2 separate regions of the Homo sapiens genome follow, and region 1 is linked to region 2. Evidence: fine-mapped expression QTL. A gene starts in region 2. The other region holds a variant in brackets. All regions are shown on one strand. Distances are from middle to middle. Region 1 overlaps IL17RA (interleukin 17 receptor A). Region 2 holds the start of IL17RA (interleukin 17 receptor A).

Region 1 (14,011 bases), 32 kb before region 2:
CGCGTGCCGCTGCCCGCGCACCTGCGCTACCTGCTTATCGCCGTCTACTTCCTCACCCTCGCCTCGCCGGTGCTCTGGCTCTACGAGCTCAACGCCGCGGCCGCAGCGGCTGCATCCTGGGGCCAGGCCTCCGGGCCTGGCAGCTGCAGCCGCCTTCTGCGCCTGCTGGGCGGCTGCCTGGTGGACGTGCCCTTGCTGGCGCTGCGCTGCCTCCTGGTGGTCAGCTACCAGCAGCCCCTCTCCATCTTCATGCTCAAGAACCTCTTCTTCCTCGGCTGCCGGGGCCTGGAGGCCCTGGAGGGCTGCTGGGACCGGGGCAATCGGGCCTCCCCGAGTCGGGCCAGAGGGGGCTACGGTGCTCCGCCCTCCGCCCCTCCACCACCTCCGCCACCACCTCAGGGAGGCTCCCAGCTGGGCCACTGCATCTCGGAGAACGAGGGGGGTGCTCATGGCTATGTCAACACCCTGGCTGTGGCCTCTCAGAATTGAGGGTGAAGGGCACGGGTCCTTGTTTTTGGGTTGAGAGTCCCCAACCCCCTTGTCTTCTACCTTCTGTCACCTAGATTTGATCAGGGTCTATTTGGAAGAGGTAACCCTTTTCAGGGCTAAGGGCCAGGGTGTTCTTCTGCACCCTGGGGTGAGGACGGCTTGGAGGGAGACCAGCAGTTAACGGTGAGGGAGGTAGGTGCACTTACCCTCTCCTCTCTTCTCCTATCCTACCCCAATCCTGACCTCCAAGGGGCTGGTACCTCTGCTTCTTGCTTTGCCCACCTCCACTCTAATTCCCATCCATTAGGAGGAGAGGGGTGCTGGGCCTTGGACCTTCTCCCTTGCTTAGAAGTGCCAGCCTCTTTTAGGCTGTGGTTAGTGGCCATTGTCCCATGCCTTGAAATTGACCCAGAACCCACTTTCCACTGATGTGTCTCTTGGATTTCTTCCAGGTGATAGATACAAAGTGTATGTCTCTGTGTGTGTAGTGTTGTTTTCTCGTGTCCACCCTGTGGCCCTTTGCAATGGGTAGGAGATCTGGGGAGGCCCTGCCCCCTACACCATACTTATCACCACCCTCCTCTTTTCTGCCTGGATTTGTGACCATGAATTCCCAGGAAGAGCTGGGCCCCTGGGAGCTGCCCAGGTACTCCCCTTGAAGGGAGAATCTCACCCAGGATCTTCCTCAATACTGCTCCTCTCTTCTCAGCTCAGGGAGAGGAGGGGATCCATTCTCTAAGGACCAAACTGCACCCTTTCTTGGGTGAGTGAGCATTTCTACCTCCGTGCTTTCAACTTTTGTTGCATCATGCACTGATGCTGCTTGCAAAAAATGAAGACAAAATACTCAGAAGTTGCATTTGCCATGGCCACTGGCTCCAGCTGGGGTTTGGTGCCAGTGTTATTACAGGGTCTGCGGAGTATCAGCCATTGGCTTGGCCTCTCTCTGTTCCTCCCTCTGCACCTAGAACTCTTATCCTTCCTGTGGTTTGGTGCCGACTGGGTCGGATCTGGGCTTAGAGTAATAGCTTTGGTGGGTTTCCTGGATGGATGTGAAGTTGGGCCTCCCATGGGCCCAAGGGAGTAGGAAGCCCCATTCCCCACCTGTCCTTCCTCTAGGAAGTGTAGATCAGAAAGTGAGGTGGTGACCTCCCACCTCTGGTCTGGTTAAGAGTCTCACTAGGGCCAAGGCAGGCTGCAGAACTTTCCCTCTTCCTCTCATTGAGGGTGATGACAAGAGACATCCGGGGACTGTGCACTTACAGTCGGTGTGGAATGTCACTCTTGCAGTCTTTGAGGCAGGATAAGTATTTTTACATATTTTAAGGGTGCAGGAGGACAGCAGCTAACAAGGCCAGGAAATACTCACTTCCCTCCACCCTCAACAGGATGTGGTGGGGGTGAAACTTGAAGAATTTTTGTTTCCCCTTCTCCCTTCTTACGTTTGGGAAGTTTTATGTAGTGTAACAAACTCTAGACGAGTTACCAGAAGATGTGGATTCTAGTTCTGATTCTGTCACTCATTGGCTTTGAGTGACATATTTTTATTTCCTGGGCCTGTTTTCTCACATTAAAAAAGTAGAAGTTAGATGAGTGATCTCTAAGGTTGAAGGTAATTTCAGCTCTCACATTCTTTTGAGTTTGTGGCTCTTGAAAGCCCTGGTCCTGATGCTCCCTGTAAAGGTGGCTGGGAGAGAAGCCAGCCAGGCTGCACTTGCAGAACATTCCCTGCTCTGTACTGGGTGTGTGAAGCCCCAGCAGAGAAGGCCGGAGGGAGGGCTTGGGTGCCTGGGCTGGGTGTGGGGCAGGGCCTGGCACAGCTGCAGAGTGCACAGGGAGGGTCAGAAGTGCCAAGTCACTGGCCGTTAACTCAGCACCCAGGCCAAGCCCCCGCCTCCCACTTGAAGCCCCCTCTTACAACTGTTTTGGGGGCTTGGAGCAGAAGACACCCTTGTAGACAGACATAAGAGGGGCAGAAGGCTTGACCAGAGTTCTCTTGAGCCTCCTCATGCTCTCAGAGCAGGGAACAGCGGGGGAAAATGTTTACACTCCATGCACAATCTGTGCTTCCAGTCCCTCACCCTATGTGGCCCAATAGCTGGCTGGATTTCACACTTAATTGGTATTTTTTTCTGCCTTCTTCCCCTGCCCCCACTGACTCCTCTCCTCTCCCTTTGATTGTACTCAAGGTTCTGGGGCCTGGGCCCTGGGTGGGTACCAACAGCTGCTCGCTGTTCCCATGTCCTCTCTCCAGCTTTGCTGTGTTTCTCTGCTACCTAATCTCAGTGACTGTGAAAGGACATTGTGTCTGAGCCATGGCCAGCCGCTGGCTGGCCCCCTGATCTGCCCCCCTTCTATTGTTTGGATGGCCATCTCCTGCTGGGCCTCCCTGACTGTAAAATCTCTGTACTGTTTGTTAGGTTTTTGGTGGGAGGCTGTGATAAGTTCCAATGAGCTGCCACTTCCCTGGATATGTCAAGAAGCTGATGGCAACTTGGCCAATTCTGGCAGATATCAGGCCCCCAGTTCAGCCCCAGTCACCCTCTTTTACACATGTGGGTCAACCACTGTGTGCTCAGAGGGTCAGTCCCTTCCTCTGCTGTGTTTTTCTTGAGTCCTTGCACTCACTTCCCCTGCCCCAGTCACGATGACCCCTAAAGCTTCCTTTGCCCTTGCTTTCTAGGGCATCCCTAGTGAAGGGGCAAACCTGAGATTTCTCCGTGGACCTGACAGCCAAGGCAGGGCACTGTCTCCTGAGGCCAGTGCCAGCACGTGCATGGTTCACAGAAAAGGATCCTGGGCTCAGAATCTCGAGAACCGCCTGCTCCTAACAATTCAGCAAGTCAGGGGCTTCCTCTCTGTTAGTCCCCAAATCCTTACTTATTTTAAAAAGACTAGACCCTCTCTAAAGACTGTTCCATTTTAACATGTCCTGATTCTGCATCCGTGGGTTTTGTGAAAGAGAGCTAGCTGGCGGTTAGAGCCTGGAAGAAGGAGGGAAGTGGCACCTCACTAGCATTTATCACTTTTTTCCTTCTCTTTTTAAAAATAAAACCAGACTCTGTTCTGAAAATAAAAAACTTGAGACTTGTGACAAGCTTCCTGTGTGGTTTGTTTTAAGATCTTTTCTGTCCTGGTTTCCTTACAAAATTCTTAAATGTCACTGTGACATTCGCCATTATTTTATAAGTTTGTGTTAACATTATGGGTACACCTTGGCCCTTCTAGGCAGTTGGCATGTTTTTCAGGGAGGCAGTGAAGCTGTGGCCTGGAGCTGGTGAGTGTCTTGACATGCTTTGTTGGCACAGCCAGCTCAGCTCTAATGGACTCAGCCTGAGAACGATTTTTTCTCATCACCCTCGGCTCTCTCTCACTTTTCTTTCCTTCCTTCTTTCTTTTTCTTTGTTTTTGAGACAGGGTCTCACTCTGTCACCTGGGCTGGAGTGCAGTGGCGCCATCATAGTTCACTGCAGCCTCAACCTCCTGGGCTCAAACAATCCTCCTGCCTCAGCCTCCCAAGTAGCTGGGACTACAGAAGTGTGCCACCACGCCCGGCTTCCCATTTCTTTCTAAAAGAGTAGCTTTCCAAAGGGGGAACATCTTGAGAAACTAATTTTTAAATACTGTGCCCTCCTCTATCACTCTTGCCCCAGCCAGAAGCACAAATTCTTACGTATGAATAAGAAGAACAAGGCCATGGGTTTTTGTTTGGTTTTATTTTAACATGAAGGGTAGTATTAAGTCTAAGCAAGAACACTGGGCCTGCACCAAAATAAACAAACACACAGTGATTTTTTTTTTTTCTTAGCACAGAGGCAGCCAGTATTACACAGCCCCTCTCTGTGTTGTGACCCTAGCTTGCTGCTTCTGGCTGTGCCAAATGCTAAGCAGGCGTTTCACTCAGGGCAGCCCGGGAGGCAAGGTCTGAGAGTGGAAGCTCCTGGGAGCCTGAGCTCTCTCTGCCTCTCGTTAGCTGTGGCTTTGGCCATCAACTGGAACTATGTCATTATTTATAAAACAGGAGCAATCACAGGGCTGTGGTGAGAATCACATGAGGTGACACATGTGAAATGGTCCTTTCCCCTAAGACATATATAATTGTAACAAGGAACAAAATTTACATAGAAAATAATTACAGAACAACGTAGGACCATGTCTTCATTTCTCCCTGGAGCGGATGTAAAATAAGGTGATTGATTTGAGCAAGCATGTTATGAATATTTAGAAATGTCTTCTAGGGAAGCAAGCTGGCGCTCACCGATTTTGGTTTGCCAGGCATATCAGAAGGCACTTTGTGACAGGTGCAGTAGGGACGCGGAGTGATCTCTTCACGTGTAGGCAATGCCCAGCCCACACCTAGGCCTTGCCTGAGTCTGGCCATGCAGTTCTTGCCCTAAGGAAGAACAGGAAAATATAGCGCGTGGTTGACTGTCAGGCCCTCTGCCCCTTCCCTCGTCACAGCCACCTTCAGGGCTGCTTTCTCTCCATTTTCCTGAGGCCGAGAAAGAGGAGGTAGCTGGCACAATGCCACATTGCAGTCAGGAAGAAAAGCCAGTGTGCACCAAGGCCCTTCTTCCTCCCACATCTGCACTGCTCCAGGCAACCTTCGGTAGTCGGCTGTTGCTTGGGTCCAGCTTCCTTTCCATGAAAGCTCAGCCATTCTAGCAAAAAAGCAGGGGCTGTTTTCATCTTCTGAGAGAATCCCATGACACTGGTGAGCAGAGGCGGCCAGTGGGACACCCGTGCAGGGAAGCAGGCAAATGCAGGGACCAGCCACCCGCATCCCTCCTTTCTACTCCCTCTCCTCCTCCTACCTGGTCACTGTGTACCTTCTTCCTGTCTCATCAGAGAGGAAGGATCCAGTGAGCGAACTCATCTTATAGTCAATGACCTAAGGGGTTATTCCTCCTGGGAAGGACTCCAGGGGGAGGTGGGCTGGGCCAGGCTTCCTGGCACACTTCAAACCATGAGACAGGAGACTGCATGTTCCTCCCACAGGCAAGACTGGCCCACCCGGGTGACTGCCTGCTTTCATCAACCTAAATGGACAGGGCGAGAGTGTGGACCCAGTGCTAGGATCTGGGAGAGGCGATGGGGCATGGAGAGCCATGCAGAGGTGGAGGGCAAGATGGACCTGGATGCCATTTCAGAGTGAGGGGAGGCCCCGTGGGGAAAGCGTCGGGTACAGAATTAACATGAACAGCTTGTGCAATGGGTTTAGGGGTAGCTGCTTTTCTTCATATTCTTCTATAAAATATACCCATGGAATCCATATTGTTGCCATTTTTCCACAATGGACATGTTCACTCAGCCAAGTACTTCCTGAGCTCCTGAGAGACGCCAAATATGGGAACACATATTACTTCTATAATCTGAAAAGGCAAACACCGGAGGAAGAGAGCAATACCTAATAGCAGGGAAAGAGGATCAGTGGTACCTCAGGGGGCACAAACTGCTCTGCCCCAGAAGCAGGCTGGTGCCACTCGGGGATACTGCAGGCTTGCCAGGACCCCATGAGGTGGGAACTCCTGCCCCACCCACTTTACAGATGAGCAAGCTACCTAGGGCGGACGAGCAGCTGGCCAGCCCCCAACCCTGCTGCCTCTTCTTTGTAAGGATCCTCTGTCCGACACAGTTGACTTGTGGGATGCAGGCCCGGCTGCTGGAGCAGCGGCCCTCCATCTCACTCTGTCCTCAGGTGCCCCGGGCCTTGCTGGAGTCCCAGCTGGCAGGGCGCTAAGGCAGAAGAGGGCCCTGCATACACCTCATTTATTTAGGAAGGGGAGCACCAACCACAGAGCCCAAAGGCTATAGAGTTAAAACCACCCACTGCATTGTAAGTACATCTTCTTCTCTCTTATGCCCTATTTAATTTTCAAAGATAAACAGGAAAGGCCAGGCACGGTGGGCTCAGGCCTATAATCCCAGCACTTTGGGAGGATGAGGCGGGCAGATGGCTTGAGCCCAGGAGTTCGTGACCAGCCTGGACAACATGGTGAAACCCCATTTCTACAAAATATATACACACAAATTAGCCGGGCACAGTGGTGCACGCCTGTAGTTCTAGCCACTGGCAGGCTGAGGTGGAAAGATGGCTTGAGCCTGGGAGGTCGAGGCTGCAGTGAGCCATGATTGCACCACTGTAATACAGCCTGGTGACAGAGAGACCCTGACTTAAAAACAAACAAAAAACCAAAACACAACAAAAGCAAGAAAGAAGTATATCCATCATACCCTTGCATTCAGAGATCCCAGCTCAAACTGCTGAATGGATGTTTCAGAGACCGAACACCACCCTTTTTAGACCCTAAACACCTTCAAGGACCTTCCTATGCAGAAAAGAGAAACTGGTTTTGAATCAAAGTAATTATTCCTTAAAAAAAAAAAAAACAAAAAAAAAACTAGGATCAAGATAGTAGGCAGGAAAAAGTCATGAAACTCTACGCGGGAGTTGGGAGCTTGTTGGTGGCTGCGTGCATAATCGGCCTGGACACAGGCATGGTTAGATGCTCCGCTGCTTCTTTCCCAACCGGAACCACCTCTGCACACTCAGGAGACGAGCTGAAGAGGTGGGAGGGGCACAGCGTGGAGGGCACCTGTTCTTAGAGAGACATTTCTTGGTGAAACAATTTATTAGCCATGGTTCAGAATAATACAAAAATAAAGGTGTGGCTTTATTTACACACACTCTTGAAGCTCTTGGCATTCAGCGGACAGCAAACACCATACTCAGAGTGATGGAATTAATAGCATTTAGGGTAAGCAAGGACCAGTGTGAGACTGGGCCCAGGAAATGGGGAGGGAATGTGAGGAGAAACAGGGAATGACATTAAAGAAGAAACAGACACCTTGGAGAATTTATGACTCCTTTCTCTATGTCATGTCCAGAAGAGGCAAGTCTACAGAGATCAAAGTAGCCTAGGGGTGCCTAGGGATGGGGAGGTTGGGGTGGTGACTAAGGGGGGCTGGATTTCTTTTGGGGGTAGTAAACTCTAAGACTGACTGTGCTGATGGCTGCTGAACTGTGACTATACTAAACCGGCATCAAATTGTGCAGGGTCAATTGTGGATTGTATGGTAAGTGAACTGTACTCCAATAAAGCTGTTAGGAGGACAAAGGCAGCTGCCCTGGAGATAGTAGGCAATGCCCATCAGGACATTTACTGGCATGGGCTCAAAGGCCAGCAGAGCTAGAATTCAAGGTTCCTGAGGAATGGGAGCAGATGGGAACATGTGCTCTACGCAGGAAGAGTGCATTGTGGTATCCTGTACTCTGGGCGTCAAACAGTTATTTATTGGAAGCTAGGGAAAGGTCACAGAATGCATGGTAGGTGTCCAGACCCAACGAAGCCCCTCTCCAGGATTATTGGAGAGACTGAGCCCAAAAGGCTAGTGGCTGGGAGGCTTCTGCTCCTGTTCTCCTTTGCCTGGTCCTTTGCTGCTGTTGGGTGGATTATGGGCCATACACCATCTGGGACACAGAGCTTTGGTGGCCCTGCTACCACTAGGTAAAGTCTAACTGCAAGAAAAAACTCCGCAACTAGCAACTTCTTGACCTACAGTAAGTGGCTCGACCTTCCTGCTAGAAACTCTTACCAGATCAACAAATTTATGCACTTTTATTGATAATCTTTCACGCACATGTATGTGTGCGCACACACACATGCAAACTGTCCTGTTTGCTCTCCTGTCACATTTCCGAATCTTCTCCTCCTCACTGGAGGTTGGAAATATAGTTAAGGACTCAGGCATAGGAATGAAGGGCACCCTATTCCAGTGTCAGACGGCACCTCAATGTGTTCTTCAGGACCCTGAAGCCAGAAGCCTCTAGCCTACCCCCAGGAGGTACTTCAGGAACAAATTCTTCAAACACTGGCTTCAGAGCCTCTTTTCAAATGCTGTCTTTGGACCTCAGACCCTGAAGTCACAGCAGCACCCCTTCCCCACACAAGGTCTGCCCAGATCTTCACTGACCCACCACCCCTCATTTCCTTGCCCTTGCACCCTGGGGCTTCCTGAGCTCAGGGGAGCTCCAGCCCAGCTGCTCTGAAGAATCCTACGTGCTAACAGCTCCCCACTGATAGTCGGAACGCGGGTGCAGGGCTTCAGACTCACCTTCCTGCCAGATGCTTTTACGTTTCACCTCGACATTTCTCTCTTCCTATAAATGAACTCAGGTGACATCCAGCTGTGTTTAGCCCTCAGCCTCTCTCCATGCAGAGGCTCATCAGACGAAAGGTGCCCCAGGCCTCAGGACTGATGCGCACAAGGCTGTCCCCACCCCTGAGCTCTGGCGACATCCCCCCACCCCCCACCCCGATCTCTCTCACTGCCTCCCTCCTTCCCCTCCAGGCTCCACCAGCAGCTCCCTGACAAGCTCACTCCACTCACCTCCCAGCACTTACCCACAAACTGCTTCCTTGCTGGGACTACGCTTTCCCCAACCACAATCCTTCAGCTCAGGCATCTCCTCGGGGATCCCCCCTGACCTGGGTGCCTTTCCCGTGCATGCTCACAACCCTGGGCAGGCTTCCACTCCATCTTTCTACTTTTTTATTTTTTTTGAGACAGGGTCTCACTCTGCTGCCCAGGCTGGATTGCAATGGTACCATTATAGCTCACTGCAGCCTCTACCTCCTGGGCTCAAGTGATCATCTGGCATCAGCCTCCCGAGTAGCTGGGACTACAGGCATGTGCCACCATGACTGACTAAAAAAAAATTTAGGTAGAGATGAGGTCTCACTATGTCGCCCAGGCTGGTCTTGAACTCCTGAGCTCAAGCAATCCACCTGCCTCGCCTTCCCAAAGTGCTGGGATTACAAGCATGAGCCACTGCACCTGGCCCATTCAGCGTTTACATCCCGCGTGACCATCTTTTTTTTTTTTTTTTTTTGAGATAGAGTCTCGCTCTGTCATCCAGGCTGCAGTGCAATGGCACAATCTCGGCTCACTGCAACCTCTGCCTCCCAGATTCAAGCAATTCTCCTGCCTCAGCCTCCCAAGTAGCTAGGACTACAGGCATGTGTCACCATGCCCGGCTAATTTTTCTATTTTTAGTGGAGATGGGGTTTCACCATGTTGGCCAGGCTGGCTCAAACTCCTGACCTCAGAGTGATCCACCTGCCTCGGCCTCCCAGTGTGCTGGGATTACAGGCGTGAGCCACCGTGCCCGGCCCATCCTGTTCGTTTAACGTGTCCTCGGCACTAGCGGTTAAGTTCCTTCATGGCTGGGGCCATGCCGCATGCAATTTATCTTGGTATCCCAAATGCCCGCCACATAGTAGGTGCACAATAAATGCTGAATGAACGAATAATGGAGCCTCAAGGACGCTCTACCATTAGCTCCTGGGAGCGGGCTGTGTGGATTCCCCTGGGGATAGACGATAACCAGACCGCTGCACAAAGAAAAGTTAGGAGGGATGCCTGGGATTAAAATCCAGACATTTACATTTTAAAGCCTACATTTCACACACGAACATATACACATGCAGACATGTACACACAGATGAATACGTGCACACACACTCCTCTCTCAAAGCTGGGATCTGGGCGGTCCCTGGGGAGCCGCCCTCATGCACTGGGCCCCTCTGACTCTGACCCCATCGTGTCCCAGCCCGAGTTCTTCTGCAGCTGGCGGAAAAGCAGCTGCCGCTGGAGGCTCCTCAGGCTCTCCAGGTCCTC[G/A]GGAGAGAGTGGCAGGGCCGGCTTCCCTGGGTCCTGCTCCTCTTCCTCCTCTTCCTCCATTTCCGTGAGTCCCTCGGGGGGCTGCGGGGAGCTCCTGGAGATGTAGCCCTGGTCAGACTGCACTGACTGCCGCTGCTCCTCCTCGTAGGGCGTGTGTGGGTCTGTGAGGACCATGGCGGGTCTACTGCAGCCCCCCTGGGCCTGGCAGCTCAGACTCTGCTCGAAGAGCGAGAGCATCAAGCCTTCGAGGTGCTCCCTCACGTCCTCTGGAAGGAGGTCAGGAGACGCCATGGGGGTGCTGCTGCCAAGGGGCGAGTCCTCGGGGTCCACGGGGAGGAAGAGGACGCTATTTCGCCCAGCGCCCGGGCTGCCCAGCAGCGGGCAGGCCTCGCCCTCCCCCGCCAGTGCCAGCCGGACTGCGGCACCGTCAGCCAGGGGCCCAGGCTCCACCGCGGCCACCAGGGCCCCCTCCTCTGCGGCGAGCACCAGGGTGTGGAGGGGCTGCGGCGCTGGCTGACCCCGGGGCTGCAGGTGAGGTTCCAGCTTTGCCACTGCTGCTCCTCCTTCCTCCCCGACCAGCGGGTCTATGGCCAGGCAGGCCTGGGAGCCAGGCTCGCGCACCAGGGGCGCCCGCTTCACGATGCCGGTTCCCGGAGGCAGCAGTGGCTCCTCAAACACCTCTTCGTCCAGGGACGGGGCATCCTGGTCATCTGCTGAGTAGAGGTTCTCACATTCGAACCAGTCGGGACAGCGGACCTGCCAGTCCCGGAACCTGTCCAGGGCGGCGCGGAGCTGCCTGCCGCCCGGGCTCCGCAGGTAGTTGTCCCCCGACAGCTCCCCTACGCGGTGCATGCGGCCCGGCTGGAACATCTCCAGGTCCTGGATGCGGAAGTACACCTCCTCGAACCTGTCCATGAGCGGGTACCGCGGCGCCGCGCCGAACAGGTCGGGGACGTCGCCGTCACAGCTGACCTCGCTGAAGTAGCAGACTACGTAGGTGCCGAAGCAGGCTGGCCTCTTGAAGTCCGGGAGGATCATGTTCATGGCTGCAGTGAACAGGTCCCCCACGGGCTTTCCGTGGTCGCAGCGCAGCCGCACAGGCGCCCCCCGGCCCAGGAGCGCCTGCCACTTGGCGCGCGTGCCGCGGGAGCACAGGACGATGATCTTAGAGTTGCTCTCCACCATCTCCTGCTTCTGACGGCCCACCCAGGTCATGACTCCTGCCTCCGAGATGGCCTGCTCTTCCAGCAGGTCCAGGGCCACTTCCGTGCCGCAGGCGGTGAGCAGGAACTGGGCGAATTTCAGGACCACGTCCACGTAGAGGGGGTGGTCGGCTGAGTAGATGATCCAGACCTTCCTGGGCTTCAGCGGTGGGGGGATCAGGTCAGCCGCAGGCAGGCCATCTAAGGAAACAAGACCACACATGCTGACCCTCACCCCAGGGCCCAGGGCAGCTCTGTGCCTGCCAGCCCAGGAGGGGCCTGGACCAGGACACAGAGCTTGGCTCCCTCCCTAAGCTGAGAAACCCAACTGAGGCCTGTTGGAAAAACCCAGATGTTACTATTCCACCTTTGGCTGCCTGAAAAAAATCAGTCTGCTGCCTTGTGGGAAAAAGAATCTCTCAACGTTCCTAGCTGGTCTTTAGCCTATACTTTAATTAAGAAAAGAAAAAGAGGCACCAAGCTCTGTTGGTCTGCTCCAGGGAGGACCTCTGTTCACAAAATACTTACCTTTCTTTCCTTGTCTGAGTGATTCAAAAAATGGCACCCAGGCCTTGTTATTGGGGGCCCTTCTGAGTGGGGTACTGGAAGGGGGTTTCTAAGGTGGGGTCTCCTGAAGGGACTTGGGAGTTAGAGCACAGGAGGCGACCCACGCACTTATCCCAGGAGAACCCTCCACTGCTTTAAAAATAAGCAAACATGCAAACCAGGAAATACTGACCGGTGTATTTGGTGTCATCACTGTATTTTTCACTTCCAGGCCCTGGAAAGGAAAAGAAATACACTGGAGTGGTTCTTTGGGAAGAGAAATAGAAACCAGCTCACAGGGTGTCTGCCCCATCCCTGACAAAGGGTGAAGGGTAAGGGGGCAGCCCCGAGACTGAGCAGCGAGGCCGTGCTAGGTGGTCGCACAGGCATGAGTCCTGGGTCTGCCACTACGAGCACTATGACCTGGAGCAGTTACTAGTGCCTCTGAAATGCAGCTTCTTCCTCTGTGAGGTGGGTCTGTATTTGCTCTTGTTTAATGGGTATTAAATGAGTGTGTGTATGTGACGTGCCTGGCACGTTGTACATAATCAATTGGGATCACAGTTATTTTGTAGCACTGATCCAGCTGGGACCCCCAGTGCCGGGGGGCAGGGGGTGGTGTCCATTCTGGTTCCTCATTACGGTCCTGGTCTGCCCTGTCTCCCTGAAATTTGGCCACCCCAAACTGACTCCACATGAGGAAAAGCTCTTCCCCAGAAGTGTCTTTACAGAAGACATGCATCTTACCACACTTCTTTCCAGAAGCAGCCCCACCAGGCTGCTTGCAACATTTCCTCCTGGTATTTTTGAGGTGAGGAAGGGGAACCCACATACTTAAGCAATTGTTCCCCTCAGAGATGTGATGAAAAAACTGCTCTGCGGGGGTTAACTCCTTAGTGACAGCTGGGAGGATTGAGATCCACAGATGACTGAGCAAACGACTTAGAACCTTAATCTCAATCCTAACCCTTTCAGCTCTTCCCCAGAACTGTCACAAGACAGCCAAATAACAGCGAGGCTCCTCTTGCCTTCACCCTGTGGTGCAGGACACTTCGGAAAACAGAAGCGCAACAGCAGAAAGGAAACCAAAAGCGCCGCCGCCGCCCAGCCCCAAACCTTTAGAGAGCTGCACCGCCTGTGGAGCACTGGCCGAGATGCTACTGAATGTTATTGGAACCTCCCATAGGTCCTCCCATGCCTGGCTGGTTTTCTTTCTACCACATAATAATTAATAATGATTAACACCTAATCCTGACGAGCCTAGGGAAGGGTGGAAACAGCTTCCCAGATGACGGAAGGAGCAGCCTAGGGTCATGGTGGGGCAGGCAAGGGCTGAAGCCCCAACCGGAAGGCCTGTGTTCTCCCGGCTTAGGACTTGGCCAGCAGAGGGCTGCAGGTGGGAGAAGACACTGGTATGTACTAATCCCCACCAGCAAGCACCTTCCTCAGCTACTCATTTAACCTTCGTCACACCCTTAGAGGGAGGCATTATCAGTACATTTTACAGAAAAGTGAATCCATGGTGTATTAAGTAACTGGCCTGTGACTACAAGGCTAATGAGGTGGGGCTGGGGTCCACCCCTGTGGCTCAGGGCAGCCGGAGCCTTCTCTATCACCCGATGCTGACCCTCACTATTCTCCCTGACCCCAGGCGTCCACGTCTGGCGGCTGCAGGATGGGGTTGTTCAGGCTGCTCCACCTGCCTGGATGATCATTCCTGACACAGGGAAACTTTACTCCGGCTCCTTCCAAACTATTGATTTTAATAATACTACATTTGATAACAACAAATATAATCGTGGCTAACAGATACTGTGCAAATAGCACATGCCAGGTTCTGTGCTAAGAATTCATGTGTCTTATTTCACTCAGTCCTTACAACAGCTTTATGACGTGGTTCTCAAGCAAGAAGCTGAGGCTCTGAGAATAAAGCGATTTGCCTTGGTAGTGAGTGGTGGTGCTGGTATTAGAGCCTGACTCCAGGACAGCCAGAGCCCCAGCGCTTACCAGCTAGCCTCCAGGTCATGCAGACGATGAGCAGGATGACGGAGCCCACCAGCAGGATGGAGATGCCCGTGATGAACCAGTACACC
Region 2 (15,187 bases):
CAGCCTGCTTTCAATCTCACCTTAGCACTCATTAGCTGTGCGACCTTGGGCCAATAACCCAGCCTCTCAAAAGCAGGTTCATCCTGCCAACCTTGTAAGCTGTCGTTGAGTATGGGATGAAGGAATACTTGTGAGCCACCGGCACAGTGCCTGGCACAAAGAACACAACTTTGTAGCCTCTGGAAGAGTGGCATGATGAAAGTGGCTTCTGGCAAGCAAAAGATAAAGGGGTTAAACTGAGCAGCTGTTCTACAACCACAAGTCAAAACCGCAAACGCTCAGGAAAAAAGACTCTGTAATGAAATACACATCCTGTCTATGAAATTACGTGTTAACATTTACCCTGACCAACTCTTAAGTTGCTGCTGTCTTTCCTATGGGCATTCCTCCAGGCTGGCGGTCATGGGAAACCTGCATGAAGCCTAGGCAGCGAGAACGGCTAACCAAAAGGAAACTCCCAGGGAAATGCAATTATTGATGGTTTCTCGTGTAATGATTTCTGTGGGGAAATCAGTCATCTGGGTTTTGAGGTGCTAACCCCAAGCATCTGGAACCATTGCTATGGTTGGTCTCAGCTTGCCACTACCTTCCAAGCAGAGCTGACCGTTCTTTCCTTCATTCATGCATTCTTTTGTTCAGTCAACACATATGTATCAAATAGCCCCCGCATCCTGTGCTCCAGCACTGAGCTAGGAACAGGCCAGGTGTGCAGAAGCCTCCTCCCTGTCTGAGGATAGTTATGGAAGGCTAAATCGAACTGGGCTTTGGACAGACACTTACATTCTGGAAGGTGGCATGGACTTACTTTGAGAAGGCTCACCCAGTCCTGCCTTTGTGGAAATGAGGGAACCCAGGCCCAGGCAGCCTCAAAGCCCGACTGCAGAGACAGTAAGTGCGATGCTGCCTGCAAATCCAGGTCCTCTGGCCACCTCTGTGGCCTTCCCTCCCCTCACTATACCACATTGCATCCACTAAAACACCAGTGAGGGACAGAAATTTGAAGGATGTGTTTTCTTTCTTTTTAAAAGAACTAGTCAATGGAGCCCAGAGCTGTCTATCTCTGGAGAAGAGCTGTCTGTGAGGCAGGTGTATACAGAAGAGAGAGAGAGGAAGGAAGAGAACGAGAGACTGCAGACAAATATGAACAGCAAGTGTCTCTCTTCAGCCCTCCCTGGAGCCAGGCCGTGCTTCTGCTCCTGACTTACAGTTGCTTCACTGTGCAGTGAAAGTCAGAGCTTGGCTCCCACGCCACGCACAGCAGAGTCCCATCCCCGCTTCTGGCATCTTTTCTCACTGTCCTATTACACAGACCCTCCATTCCGGCCACACACCGTACCCTGTCCCACTTAAGGACCTTGGCTCAGGCCCTTTCCACCACCTGGAATGCTCCTGCTACCCCCACAGGGCTGCCCAAATGCCTTTTCCATGAAGGACACCCCAACTGGAAGCAATTTTTCTTTTTCCTGGAATTCCGTACACTTAGCAGTTGTGCAAGCAGCTTTGCTAGACAGTTCCCTAACTTCAAGCCTTGTTCCTCCCGTAGATGGGTTAGGTCTCTGGATATTAGGGTCCCCAGAGTATTTATTTATAGTTCCAGTTCCCAGTATGGCGCCCTGTACTCTGCAGGCACCTGACCAATGGCTGTCAACCCAGGCGCACCAACCCTCCATATCAGAACGCTTCATACACAGCCTGCAGGAGGGACTAGCAGGGCAGAGGGACCTGCTTTGCCCAATAGTGGAAGTCACAGGACATTTCTCAACATCATTCACGATAAAAACATCTTTTTTTTTTTTTCTGCGACATAGTCACTCACCCTCCACCTTCTTTCGGTAAATCCTCCATAAAACTACATAAGGAGAAATATCCCTTTGTTTTACATCCTCTGACTCAGATACTGAGCATTATTCCTTGGGGTCAGCGGTGGAGGTGGAGGTGGAGGTGGAGGGGAGGAAAGATCCCCTCGGGGATGCGGGGAAGAGGAGAGTATATTGTGGAGGGGCACGGCGTTTTGCTCTTTTTTTGTTTTTTTCCTTAAGATGGTCCTGGCTCACAGAAAGGCCACTACCCGGCAGGCGGGTGGGTCACTTCCTGTGGGCGCAGCGGGGCTACGACTTGACAGCTACAAACGTTCGACCCTCCGACTGCGCTCTCACCGGGTTCCCAGACCCAGGTGGTGGTAGTCGGGGGTGGGAGTGGCGGGAAGGGCGCCGTCTTAAGAACCATCTGCCCATCCTCAGGGCTTCGCGCCTCTGGGGAGGTGGCCCTCAGCCGCCCTCGGCAGAGCTCTCCCCGAAACATGGTGCCGCGTCTCAGCGCTCCGGCCCCCGCGTGGCTCTACGACAGCGGGGTCCCTCTGGGGGCCGCGGGTGAGGGACTCCACCTTCCGCACGGACGACGTGGGCTCGCCCGGCTCCGTCGGCGGCATGAAGGGCACGGCTTGAGGGAAGCTCCCGAGGGCGCGATGGGCCTCCCGAGGGCCGACCGTGCCCCGCCGGGGTACGTGAGGGGCGCAAGGCGTGGAGCTGGGTCCAGACCCGTCCTGGCTCCTCCCCGGGCCCCTTCTCCACAGCCCCTTTCTATCAGCCCTGGCCGCCCCTCCGGCCTGGCCCAGCGCCGCGCCCTCCTTCCCCGAACTCCGCGGCCCGGGCGGAGGTGTCACTCCCGCCTCCAGTCACGACGGCGGGCCAGGTTGTGCAACACGCGCCGCGCGATGTGCCACCCACCCCCCCCGTATTCCACACCGCAACTCCCACCGCTCCGAGGGTCCTCCCCAGGCGCCGCGATATCTGTGCCCAAGGCTCTGAGCCCCTCTAAGCCCGCGGCGCGGACTTCCTGCCTCCCCAGCCCGGGCGCGTAGTCCCGACCGTCCGGCCCTCCGCGACCTTGCCCCGCGTCCGCAGCATCCTGGCGGCTACCGCTCCCCACGTCGAGTCTCACCGGCTGGGAGCAGACCAGCGCCCGGTGGTCCAGGAGTCGCAGGGAGGCGCCACCCGGGGCCAGCACGCCCAGGAGCAGCAGGAGCAGCCCCAGCAGGGGCCCCGGGACAGCGGACGGCGGGCTGCGTGCGGCCCCCATGGCCCGGCTGGCGTCGCGGAGGGCTCGGCCCCGGCTGGGGACGCAGCGAACGAACGTTCTGAGGCTTTCTTTTCCGCGGTGGAGTTCGAGTCGGCTCCACTTTGCTCGCTTCCGGCTTCCAGCCCGGGCCCAGGGGCGGGCCGGGCCGAGGGGAGGAGTTTAGTCTGGGACGGGGAGGGGTTTAGGGTGAGACAGGGCCCTCCCCCCGTTCCTCCTTGCGCCCCTCCTCTCGGCCCTACGCTCAGTCCTCCGGGCGTCCCTACCCAGTCCTTCCGGCGTCCCTCCCCGGCCCTCCTCCGCCCGCGCGCCCCAGGTGCGCTCCTCCCGCTGCTCCTGGGCCTGGCCCGTCGCGCCTCCAGTTGCACCCGCGTCGGGCTAGCGTCAACTCCAGCTGGAGCCTCGCCTGCCCCACATGCACCCTCCACCCTGGCCGTGCCGCAGCAACTGTCGATTTTAATCCTCCGCCCCCACTCACTTGATTCTTGGCCCTGTTCAGACTTCTTGCTTCTCTTGTGGGTCACTGGACGTGAAATCCCAACTTGGGATTTCAGGAAGTCCGTTTTCTTAGTCTCTGTCCCTTTTATTTTTGTTTTTTATTTTACTTTATTTTTAGACAGGGTCTCCCTCTGTCTCCCAGGCTGGAGTGCAGTGGTGCAACCGCAGCTCACTGCAGCTTCGGCCTCCCGGGCTCAAGCGATCCTCCTGCCTCTGCCTCCTGAGTAGATGGAAGCGCGGGCCATATCCCATTTTATTGTCCCCACCCCTTTGCCTGGTTCTGCTCGCTCTGCTTTCCTTGGCTTTGCTTTCTCTTTCTCAAGACAAGGACAGCTCCGGGCTCCAGGGAGGATGGGACAGCAGTCACTTCCAGCCTCCTGGCTCGGACTCGGGGACACTTGAGTTCCTGGAGGGCAGGCAACTTACCTGGTCTGTGAGACTGTGTCCCAGCCGCACCTAAGAGAGTCGTTACTTCCCAGAGGCTCACTCCACGGCCGCGGAAGCTGTCGCCAGCGAATTACACATTTCATGAGTCTCCTTCTTAGCACGCGTGCAGCCTGCGTCCTCTCCTCTCCGGACCCTGGAGGACCCTCCCAAGCCGGCCCGCGCTGCCTCTATCCTAGGTTCCTGCTTCGAGCCCGTCCTGCCCTAGTGCATCCACACGCTCCTGCCCATTCGCCTCTCCTCTCTTCCTCCCAAGACCACCACCGTCCGCTTTTCCTTGCCTATCAAGTGCGCCTCTGCCTGGCCTTGACACGCACGGAGTCTACACTCAAGTGGCTTTTCCCTGTATTTTCCACTGCCCTCGAGAGGTGGGTTTTTTCGCTGCCCGAAGCACCCGCTGACCCCCAGCGACATCTCTATGAGCCCCGCCCGCAGACACGACCCAGCTGAATGAAGCCTGAAGCTCAGTGGCCTTCAAATTGTCTGTTTCTAAAAGAATTTTGGAAAACTGCATCCTCTCATGCATTTTAAAGATGACATCTAAAATTCTCCATCCTAAGTCTAAATAGATGTAGAGGATGTAACTGTTACTTAAAAATCAGCGGTTGTCGTAGGCAGCTTCTAAGATGTGTTCTAGGATCCCACCCCCTGGGAGTCACGACCTTCTGAATCCTCCTCGCGGAGTGTGGGATGGACCCAGAGGCTTGGTTCTAACAATAGAATATGAATAGAAGAAGACAAAAATGATGGGATGTCACTTACAAGATTAAGTTACAAAAAGATCCTGACTTCTGTCTTGCCCAGCCCCTCCCTCTGAGCTCCTAGCTCTTAGGGAAGCCATGCTGGGGCCCAAGTGGCAGAGAATGAGAAAGGCCTCTGCCCAGTGCAAGACACTGAGATCTTCATTTCATCATTGCCATTATTAGTACATAATTGATAAAAAATAATGTAAATATAATACATGTTAATAAGTAATTAAACATGAATTACTTGAAATTCATTTTATTCCTAATTAGTTGATGTATCTGTGAACAAATATTGCTTATTCATAGAACAAAGCAACATTCAGCATTTAAGAAATATTTTATTTTTCTTCTTTTTTTTTTTTTCTTTTTGAGATGGAGTCTTGCTCTGTCATCCAGGCCGGAGTGCAGTGGCGTGATCTCGGCTCACTGCAAGCTCCGCCTCCCGGGTTCAGTCCATTCTCCTGCCTCAGCCTCCCGAGTAGCTGGGACTACAGGCACCTGCCACCACGCCCGGCTAATTTTTTGTATTTTTAGTAGAGACGGGGTTTCACCGTGTTAGCCAGGATGGTCTTGATCTCCTGACCTCATGATCCGCCCGCCTCGGCCTCCCAAAGTGCTAGGATTACAGGCGTGAGCCACCATTTTTCTTCTTTTTAAAACATTGAGACAGGGTCTCACTATGTTACCCAGGCTGGTCTTGAATTCCTGGGCTCAAGTCATCCTCCTGCCTCAGCTTCCCAAAGTACTAGGATTACAGGCACGAGCTACCACCCCAGGCTAAAAATATTTTAGATGTAAGCCTTAAAAAATTGCTTACATAAATAATTATATTTGTCTCATCAATTCTTTGAACCCGTTTTCAGTCATATGCAAAGATCACATAGCCATCTTGTCACCTTTTTTTTTTTTTAAATAGGGTCTCACTAAACGGCCCAGGCTAGACTCAAACTCCAGGGCTCAAGAGGTCCTCTCATCTCAGCCTCCCAAGTAGCTGGGATTACAGGTTTGCACCACTGTGCCCAGTCAAATATTTTTGATTTGGCAACTGACAACTTGATTGGGTCCTCCTTCAATTTTAGTAAGGCAATATTTGGAACCTACCTCACTTGCAAAAAAATAGATGTCTATCTATCTATCTATCTATCTATCTCTGTATATCGATATGTGTATATACCTATCCTGTGATCAGAGTCCTATTACACAATGGTATCTGGTACTGTTGCTATGTCTAGTGCCCAGGGGCTTTTTAAATTTTATTTTATTTTATTTATTTTTTTTCTGAGATGGAGTCTTGCTCTGTCGCCCAGGCTGGAGTGTAGTGGCAACCTCCGCCTCCCAGGTTCAAGCAATTCTCCTGCCTCAGCCTCCTGAATAGCTGGGATTACAGGCACATGCCACCACGCCCAGCTAATTTTTGTATGTTTAGTAGAGATGGGGTTTCACCATGTTGGCCAGGCTGGTCTCGAACTCCTGACCTTGTGATCTGCCCTCCTCAACCTCCTAAAGTGCTGGGATTACAGGGGTGAGCCACTGCTCTGGGCCCCCAGGGGCTTTTTTACACATTCTAAAATGTGTCCCCCAAATTTCACATGTTAGAAACTTAATACCCAGGACTGATGAGAGGCCTACCTTTCTTTTGAAAGTGGGAGAAGGACAAGTAGGAAACAAAAGTGTGGGGAAGGAAGGGAGCCTCCACCCACACCTGACATCTTCACAGCTGGTACCTTTCCTGGCAGGCAAGTGTCTGGAAGAGGACATGGGGATGTTGAGATTCTGGAGGTCCATTCCCTTCAAATCTATTCCCTTCAAGCCAGGGCCAGCAAGTTTTTTTTTTCTGGAAAGTATCAGATAGTAAATACTTCAGGCTTTGCCAGCCATATAGTTCTGTCCCAACTATTCAACTCTGCCCTTGTAGAAGCCATTGACAATATGTAAACAAAGGAGTGTGTCTGTGTTCTAATAAAACTTTATTTATGGACACTTACATTTAAATTTCATATAATTTTCATTTGTCCAAACATATTATTTCCCTTTTGATTTTTTCCCCTGACCATTTGAAACTGTAAAAACCAACTTAGCTCCCCGGAGGGTACAAAAACAGGCAGTAGAACAGATTTGGGCCATAGGCCCTAGTTTACTGATGTGTGCCCTAAACTTTCCAAGGCGTGCCCCTTGGAAAGTCTTCATGTAACCTCAGGGTAATGTGTACTCTCATTTGAAATTGCTATCCTGGTTCTCAACTCTGCCTACGTATTAGAATCCCATGAGGTGCTTTTTGAAATACCAGTGTACAGCCACACCCTTCCACACTGATTCTGTTGGTCTGCGATGGGGTCTGGGCATAAGTATTTTTGAGTTTCCCAGATACATCTAATGTGTAGCCTGACCTTGGACCACTGTTCTAATTGCTATAGGCTCTGCACACCTCTCAGGGCACAATGCTGCTTTGTGCTGTTGTTACTGTATTTCATCCAATGATCCAAAATCATTGAAAGATAAAGCCTAATTTAGGAATTTTAAAATGTAGAAAATGGGTGTCTTCAACTGGATGAAATATAGTTTTTCCCTATCTGTAAGATTGGTCCTCACTGATGGTAAGTACCCCGGCTTCCTCACTCCTGTGTTGCTCTCACCTGCAGTGCTTGGCTGGGTGTGAGGTGGTCTGTGAATACTTGCCAAGCGCATGTCAACATTAGGCTGCTTTGCTTATTGCTTGTTCTCTGGGTTCTTACTTTTCCCCTGACAGAGCCTCATCCTGAGGAGATAGTAGATATCCAAAAAAATTTTTTTTGATTCATTGACTGATTATACAAGGAGCAATAGATTGATGTCAGGAATCAGAGTCAGGGATTGGAGAACTTGGTGGTGTCTTTGGCTATGAGAAAAGGGAAATGGCCACGGATTTCATTCCAGGACAGTGAGAGAGGGGACAGAATATCCTTTGCCATGAGAAAGATGGGGTTAGGAGCTAGTCTCTGATTGACTGAGCTTTCTGTGTCCATTCTCTGAAATGATGTTGTTTATTTGACTTTTCCTCTGTGTCCTCTGCTAGTATATAATCTCAGTGAAAGAAGAGACTGCAAATCATTTTTCACCATTGCTATTCTTTGAATGTATCCCCCAAATTTCACATGTTACAAACTTAATCCCCAAATTCATATGTTGATTGGAGGTGAGGCCTTTGGGAAGTAATTTGAATGAGATCATCAAGGTGGGGGCCTCCATAATGGGACTGGTGTCTTTATATGAAGAGGAAGATAGGCAGGGCACGGTAGCTCATGCCTGTAATCCCAGCACTTTGGGAGGCCGAGGCAGGCAGATCACTCGAGCTCAGGAGTTCATAGACCAGCCTGGGCAACATGGTGAAAACCTGTCTCTACCCAAAATACAAAAATTAGCCAGACGTGCCTGTAGTCCTAGCTGCTCGAGAGGCTGAGGCTTGAGCCTGGGAGGGAGGCAGAGGTTGTGGTTTGCTGACATTGTGCCACTGCACTCCAGCCTGGGAGATGGGAGTGAAATCCTGTCTCAAAAAAAAAAGAGTAACAGACCTGAGCTGACCTGCACACTCTTACCCTCTCTCCCTATGATCGCCTCTGCCGTGTTTTGACACAGCAAAGAGGCCCTCACCAAATGCTGGTGCCATGCTCTTAGACTTCCTGGCCTCTAGAATTGTGAGCTAAATAACATTTTTTTTCTTTATAAATTACGCAATCTATGGTATTCTCTTATAGCAACAGAAAACAGACTAAGACAACCATATTCCCAGTGCTTAGAACAGCCTCTGTCTCACAGGAGATGATCAATAAACGTGTTTTGAATAAACTGTTGAATAAACGTGTCAACTGAGATTTACTAAGTTCAAGAGGGGTTTTTGTGGGCGGAATTTTTTTCCTTTTTTTTTTTTTTTCCCCAGACAGAGTCTCACTCTGTCACCCAGGCTGGAGTACGGTGGCTCCATCACAGCTCACTGCAGTCTTAACCTCCTGGGCTCAGGTGATCCTTCTGCCTCAGTCTCCCAAGTATGTGGGACCACAGGTATGCGCCACTATGCCTAATTTTTTTTTTATTACTTGTAATATGTAATATCTGTGTTTCCCAGGCTGGCCTCAAACCCCTGGGGTCAAGAGATCCTCTCACGCCTGGCCTCAGAAATTTTTTTTATGACAACTTTTATTTTTATTCTTACATTGAGTTACAACACTTAAATTGTAGTTCTTCTCAAGCATTATTTATTATTATTATTTTTTTGAGATGGAGTTTCACTCTGTCGCCCAGGCTGGAGTGCACTGGCGTGATCTTGGCTCACTGCAACCTCCACCTCCCAGGTTCAAGCGATTCTCCTGCCTCAGTCTCCCGAGTAGCTGGGATTCAGGTGCCCCCCACCACGCCTGGCTAATTTTTTGTATTTTTAGTAGAGAGGGGGCTTCACCATGTTGGCCAGGCTGGTCTTGAACTCCTTATCTCATGATTCACCCACCTCGGCCTCCCAAAGTGCTGGGATTACAGGCGTGAGCCACCGCACCCGGCCTTTGTTTTTTTTTTTTTTTTTTTTAGAGACAGTGTCTCACTATGTTGCCCAGGCCGGTCAGCTGATCTCAAACTATGACCTCAAGTTACCCTCTTGCCTCAGCCTCCTGGATACCTGGGATTACAGGCACTAGCCACCATATCCAGTCTTCAAGCTTTTAAATTCAACTTACAAAGCTTGCTAGTTTATTTATTTATTTAGTTGCTTACTTATTTATTTGAAACAGGTTCTAGCTCTGTTATGCAGGCTGGAGTGTAGTGGCACAATCACGACTCACTGCAGCCTCAACCTCCTGGGCTCAAGTGATCCTCTAGCCTCAGCCTCCACAGTAGCTGGAACTCCAGGTGTGCACCACCATGCCTGGCTAATTTTATATTTTTTTTGTAGAGACAGGGTCTCACTATGTTGCCCAGGCTGACCTCAAACTCCTGGGCTCAAGTGATCCTCCCACCTCAGCTTCCCAAAGTACTGGGATTACAGGCATGAGCCACCATGCCCAGCTCCAGTCCATTTATTAATCTGGTAATATTGGTATAAAATAAGAACAATCACTTTTACTTGTTCTTTAATTCATGTGCTATTAACTCATAAATGTAAGAGACTAAATCTTCCTTAAACACTTAACACTACTTCAAACTTGATTCATTACATTTCCTAAGACATTTCAAACCACATCGCAAATTTTATGTGCATGTTTCTCTTAAAAGTTTCAAATGCTGACTGCTAGACTTACAAATTTAATACAAAAATATTTCTAAGCATCTATACAACACCTGAAAAAGCTAATAAATCAAACTGTTAACAAGTTGTAATAAGTTATTAAAGTAATGGCCCTCAGTTTGTTCACACCAATTCTCCTGCCTCAGCCTCCTGAGTAGCTGGGACTACAGGCGCACGCCATCATGCCTGGCTAATTTTTGTATTTTTAGTAGAGATGGGGTTTCACAGTGTTAGCCAAGATGGTCTCGATCTCCTGACCTCCTGATCCACCCGCCTCGGCCTCCCACAGTGCTGGGATTACAGGCGTGAGCCACCGCGCCCGGCCTGCCTAGACCACTTATCTTAGAACACAGGACTTTCCAGAATCCTGATTTTCAGAATGTGGCTGAGAGATGTCAGCGCCATTTTTCTGAGAGGTGAGCTCTTAGCAGAGATAGAAATTGTTTCTTTTCTATTTTTATTTCTAAGAGGAATTAGAGTTAGAGCCAGAGAGAGCTATTTAATTAAAAGGATGGGAGGCCAGTCCAAGGATTGTTAAACTGAAGTCCATAGATAGGCTCTAGGAAGTTTGTAAACACTTGGAAATAATTTGAAAAATGTTTGTGTGAGTGTGCTTTTCTCTGGAAAGAGAGTTCATAAGTCTCATCAGATTTTTGAAATAGTTTTGGCATTAACAAAACTAAACCAAACCACCACCACTACACAACCAAACTACAACACTGAGGCTCTGATAGAGAAATTTTGTGACTCATGCCACACAGGTAGTCAGTGGCAGAGCCCAGGATAAAGAGAGCCAGATGGTGTGCTTGGTAAAGAAGTTAGAAGTTTTTAGCTCTCAGGCTAGGGGGTCTTCCTGTTGCATGAAGCCAGACTGAGAATAATTACATGCAGGAATAGCAATTAAATTTATATTTTAAAGAAAAGGTACATTGGTGGGGTGTGGTGACTCACACCTGCAATCCCAGCACTTTGGGAGGCTGAGGTGGGCAGATCACTTGAGGTCAGGAGTTCGAGACCAGCCTGGCCAACATGGTGAAACTCTGTCTCTACTAAAAATGTAAAAATTGGCCAGGCATGGTGGCTCACGCCTGTAATCCCAGCATTTTGGGAGGCCAAAGTGGGCGGATCAGGAAGTCAGGAGTTTGAGACCAGCCTGGCCAACATGATGAAATTCCGTCTCTACTAAAAATACAAAAATTAGCTGAGCGCGTGGCATGGTGGCGGGCGCTTGCAATCCCAGCTAGTCGGGAGGCTGAGGCAGGAAAATTGCTTGAACCTGGGATGCAGAAGTTGCAGTGAGCTGAGAACGCGCCACTGCACTCCAGCCTGGGTGACCCAGCAAGACTTCATCTCAAAAAAATTAGCCGGGCGTGGTGGCGGGTGCCTGTAATCCTAGTTACTCGGGAGGCTGAAGCGGGAGAATCATTTGAACCCAGGAGGCATAGGTTTCAGTGAGCCAAGATCACACCACTGCACTCCAGCCTGGGTAACAGAGTGAGATTCCGTCTCAGAAAAAAGAAAAGAAAAGAAAAGAAAAGGTACATTGAGATTTGAAGAAACAGAGGAGAGGGTTGTAGGTGACTGACTAGAAATAATGTTACGGGAGGAAGAGTGAATGATGTGGTGAAGGGTATAGAACTATGAGAAAGTCCTTGTCAATCACATGGCTAGAGAATGGTGATCACTGAAAAGGAGGTAAAATATAAAAACATTTGCAGAATATTTCTCAATCGAAAATTTTACTAGGGGTTCTAAAATGGTGCTGCGGAAGCAAGCTGGCTTTACTTCCCCAACAGAAAACTGAAAAGAAACACATAGCACCAAGATCATCACCAGCAATGTTCCAGAACTCAAATATGAAGATGAGAGTTCCTGGGGCCACATATGAAAAAAACTTTGAGACATTGTCAAGAGAATCAGACTTAAAGAAAATTTTTTTTAAAGACGGGGTCTCGCTCTATTGCCCAGGTTGGAGTGCAGTGGCTCACTGCAACCTGTACTTCCCGGGTTCAAGCAATTCTCCTGCCTCAGCTTCCTGAGTAGCTGGGGTTACAAGTGTGCGCCACCACGCGTGGGTAATTTTTGTATTTTTAGTAGAGACAGATTTCACCATGTTGGCCAGGCTGGTCTTGAACTCCTTACCTCAGGTGATCTGCCTGCCTCGGCCTCCCAAAGTGCTGAGATTACAGGTGTGAGCCACTGTGCCTGGCTGAGACTCAGACTTCTATATCCATCATGCCCCTCCCTCAAATCTGCCCCACACCAAGCGTGCAGAAAACTCGCTGACTCATGCATTCTTCACTGGAAAAAGTGAGATCGAGATGGCCAGCCAGCTTCTCCATCATCGTGGGTTCACTGGCAGGAAACCTGTCCCTGACTCAACCCACAGAAAGCAACCCACAGAAAGGTTGAGTCCCTGACTCAACCCACAGAAACTCAACCCACAGAAAGGCACAGAAAGAAAGTGTGCCTGGAATAAGAAATATCCCAGAGGACAGCCAGAGACAGAGTAGGGAGGCAGGACCACCATCCCCAGCCCTGGACACTCTGCTCTAATTTGGCCAAAGGAGACAGCAAATCAGCGTGGCTGTTAAGCAGCACCATGTGGTAGGTTTGTTCCACAGGTCCCCTGGGCACAACCCCTAACCATCCTTCCCACACTACTGAAATGTCCCCTTTGAGACCTCCCTTATCCTGATGGGTGGCACTCTTTTGTTTTGAGATGGAGTCTCACCCTGTCACCAGGCTGGAGTGCAGTGGCACGATCTTGGCTCACTGCAACCTCTGCCTCCCGGGTTCAAGCGATTCCCCTGCCTCAGCCTGCCGAGTAGCTGGGACTACAGGCGCGTGTCACCACGCCCAGCTAATTTTTGTATTTTCAGTAGAGACAGGGTTTCACCATGTGGGCCAGGATGGTCTTGATCCCTTGACCTCGTGATCCGCCCACCTCAGCCTCCCAAAGTGCTAGGATTACAGGCATGAGCCACAGCGCCAGGCCGGGTGGCACTAATTGCTTTCCAGAACCAAGGCAAACCTGGGCTTATGCCACCATCTAGTGTCAAAAAGGAGGCAGTGACCTAGCTGGAAAAAAAGAAAAATAAAATAAATAAATAAATAAATAAAACCAACAGGTAAATTAAAAATAAAAACCCCAAGCAAACATATCAAATAAAAACTGAAACAAGCCAGACAGAGAAGATTGAAATAAATAACAAATCCTTTAATGCAAAGACATAGACTCACATCACAGGAAACAATAGCAAAGAAGGAATCATGACTCCAAATGGACAAAGTGAGGAACCAGTGACTGACCTTAATGAGTCAGCAATCTGTGAACCTCTGACCAAGAATTCAAAATATCTGTTTTGAGAAAACTCAGTGATATCCAAGATAACATACAAAAGTAATTCAGAAATTTACAAGAGAAATTTAATACAGAGATTGAAATTTTGAATAATCAAACAGAAATCTTGGAGCTGAGAAATAAATTCACTCAACTAAAAAATTCATGGCCAGTCGTGGTCGCTCACACCTGTAATCCCAGCACTTTGGGAGGCCAAGGTGCCTGAGCTCAGGAGTTCGAGACCAGCTTGGGCAACATGGTGAAACCCCGTCTCTACTAAAATACAAAAAATGAGCTGGGCATGGTGGCATGCGCCTGTAGTCCCAGCTACTCGGGAGGCTGAGGCAGACGTATTACTTGAACCCAGGAGGCGGAGGTTGCAGTGAGTCAAGATCATGCCACTGCACTCTAGCCTGGGCGACAGAGTGAGACTCTGTCTCTGAAAAAAAAAAAAAAAATCATTAGAGGCTCTCAACCAGCGAAATGAATCAAGCAGAGGGAAAAAACCAGCAAGCTCAAAGACAGGCTTCTAAAAAATACACAGAGGAGCAAAAACAAAAAAAGAATAAAATGCAATAAAAATTGTCTCCTAAATATAGAAAATTACCTCAAAAGACCAAATCTAAGAATTCTTGGTGTTCAAAAGGGAGTTGAGCAAGAGCAAAGGGTGGAAAGCTTATTCAAAATCAAACACGGACACTCAAAAAACTTTCCAAACTTGAGAAAGAGACAAATAGCCACATACAAGAAGATCAGAGAACACCAAACAGGTTCAACCCAAATAAGACTACCAAAAGGCATATAATAACGAAATGCTCAATGGTCAAGGGTAAAGAAAGGATTCTAAAAGCAGCAAGAGAAAAGAAGCAAATAACATATAAAAAAGCTCCAATTTGTCTGGCAACAGATTTCTCAATTGGAACTATACAGATCAGAAGGGAATGGGATGGCATTTTCAAAGTGCTGAAAGAAAAAAACTGCCATTTAAGAATACTGTATTGGAAAAGTGTCCCTTCAAATATGGAGAGGACATAAAGTCTCTTCTGGACAAACAAAAGATGAGAGTTCACTACCACCAGACCTGTGTTACAAGAAGTGCTAAGGAGAATTCTTCAATCAGAAAGAAAGAAAAAAAAAACACTAACATGCAAAAAGAAAATATGTAAAGGTATGAAACCTGCTGGTAAAATTAAGTACATGAACAAACCCAGAATACTCTAATACTATAATTTCAATGTGCAATCTACTCATAACTAGTATGCAGCCCAAAAGACAAATCTATCAAAAACAACAATACCTACAGCAATCTGTTAGGAGATGGACATTATAGAAATACACATACATTGAGACAACATAAAGTCAGAATGTGGGGGATGGAGTTAAATTGTAAAGTTAAACTCTTTTTTCCGTGTTCATTTTTATTTTCTTTAAGCTGTTATCTCTTTAAAATAACCTGTTATATCTATAAAATGTTTTTGGTAAGCCTCATGGTAATCACAATGCACAAACCTGAAATAGATTCATTAAAAATAAAAGCAATGAGTTAAAACATACTACCAGAGAATATCACTTAACCTCAAAGAAAGACAGGACTAAAGAAAGATAGGAAGAAAGAAAGAAAGGAAGCAAGGAGTTACAAAACGATCAGAAAACAAGCAACAAAATGGCAGTAGTAATAATATCAATAATAACCCTGCATGTAAATGGACTCAATTCTCCAATTAAAAGCCATGGGTTGGCTGACAGGATAAAGAAACAAGACCCAACTATATGCTGCCTACAACAAACCCATCTCACCTATAAAGACACACCAAGACTGAAAGTGAAGGGATA

What was found. PIP is the estimated chance that this variant, and not a neighbour inherited with it, causes the effect.
Region 1: its variant is fine-mapped to the expression of IL17RA in whole blood (TOPMed, PIP 0.91).

What each region holds. Positions count from the first base shown.
Region 1 is chr22:17,105,869-17,119,879 of GRCh38, reverse strand. It overlaps IL17RA (interleukin 17 receptor A), which reads right to left. Exons shown (of 13, transcript NM_014339.7): 11 at 13,926-14,011; 12 at 12,112-12,153; 13 at 4,187-11,573. The coding sequence ends at 10,060. It overlaps TMEM121B (transmembrane protein 121B), which reads left to right. Exons shown (of 1, transcript NM_031890.4): 1 at 1-3,583. The coding sequence ends at 489. Among named protein-coding and RNA genes, the nearest start is that of TMEM121B, 8.5 kb to the left of the region's middle. RefSeq lists enhancers at 11,724-12,923, 12,881-13,100 and a silencer at 13,870-14,011. The variant G/A (reference allele first, on the strand shown) is at 10,171.
Region 2 is chr22:17,072,983-17,088,169 of GRCh38, reverse strand. It overlaps IL17RA (interleukin 17 receptor A), which reads right to left and starts at 3,170. Exons shown (of 13, transcript NM_014339.7): 1 at 2,941-3,170. The coding sequence starts at 3,078. RefSeq lists silencers at 2,388-2,637, 2,678-2,777, 3,028-3,147, 3,168-3,387, 12,998-13,057 and enhancers at 3,941-4,110, 11,668-11,837.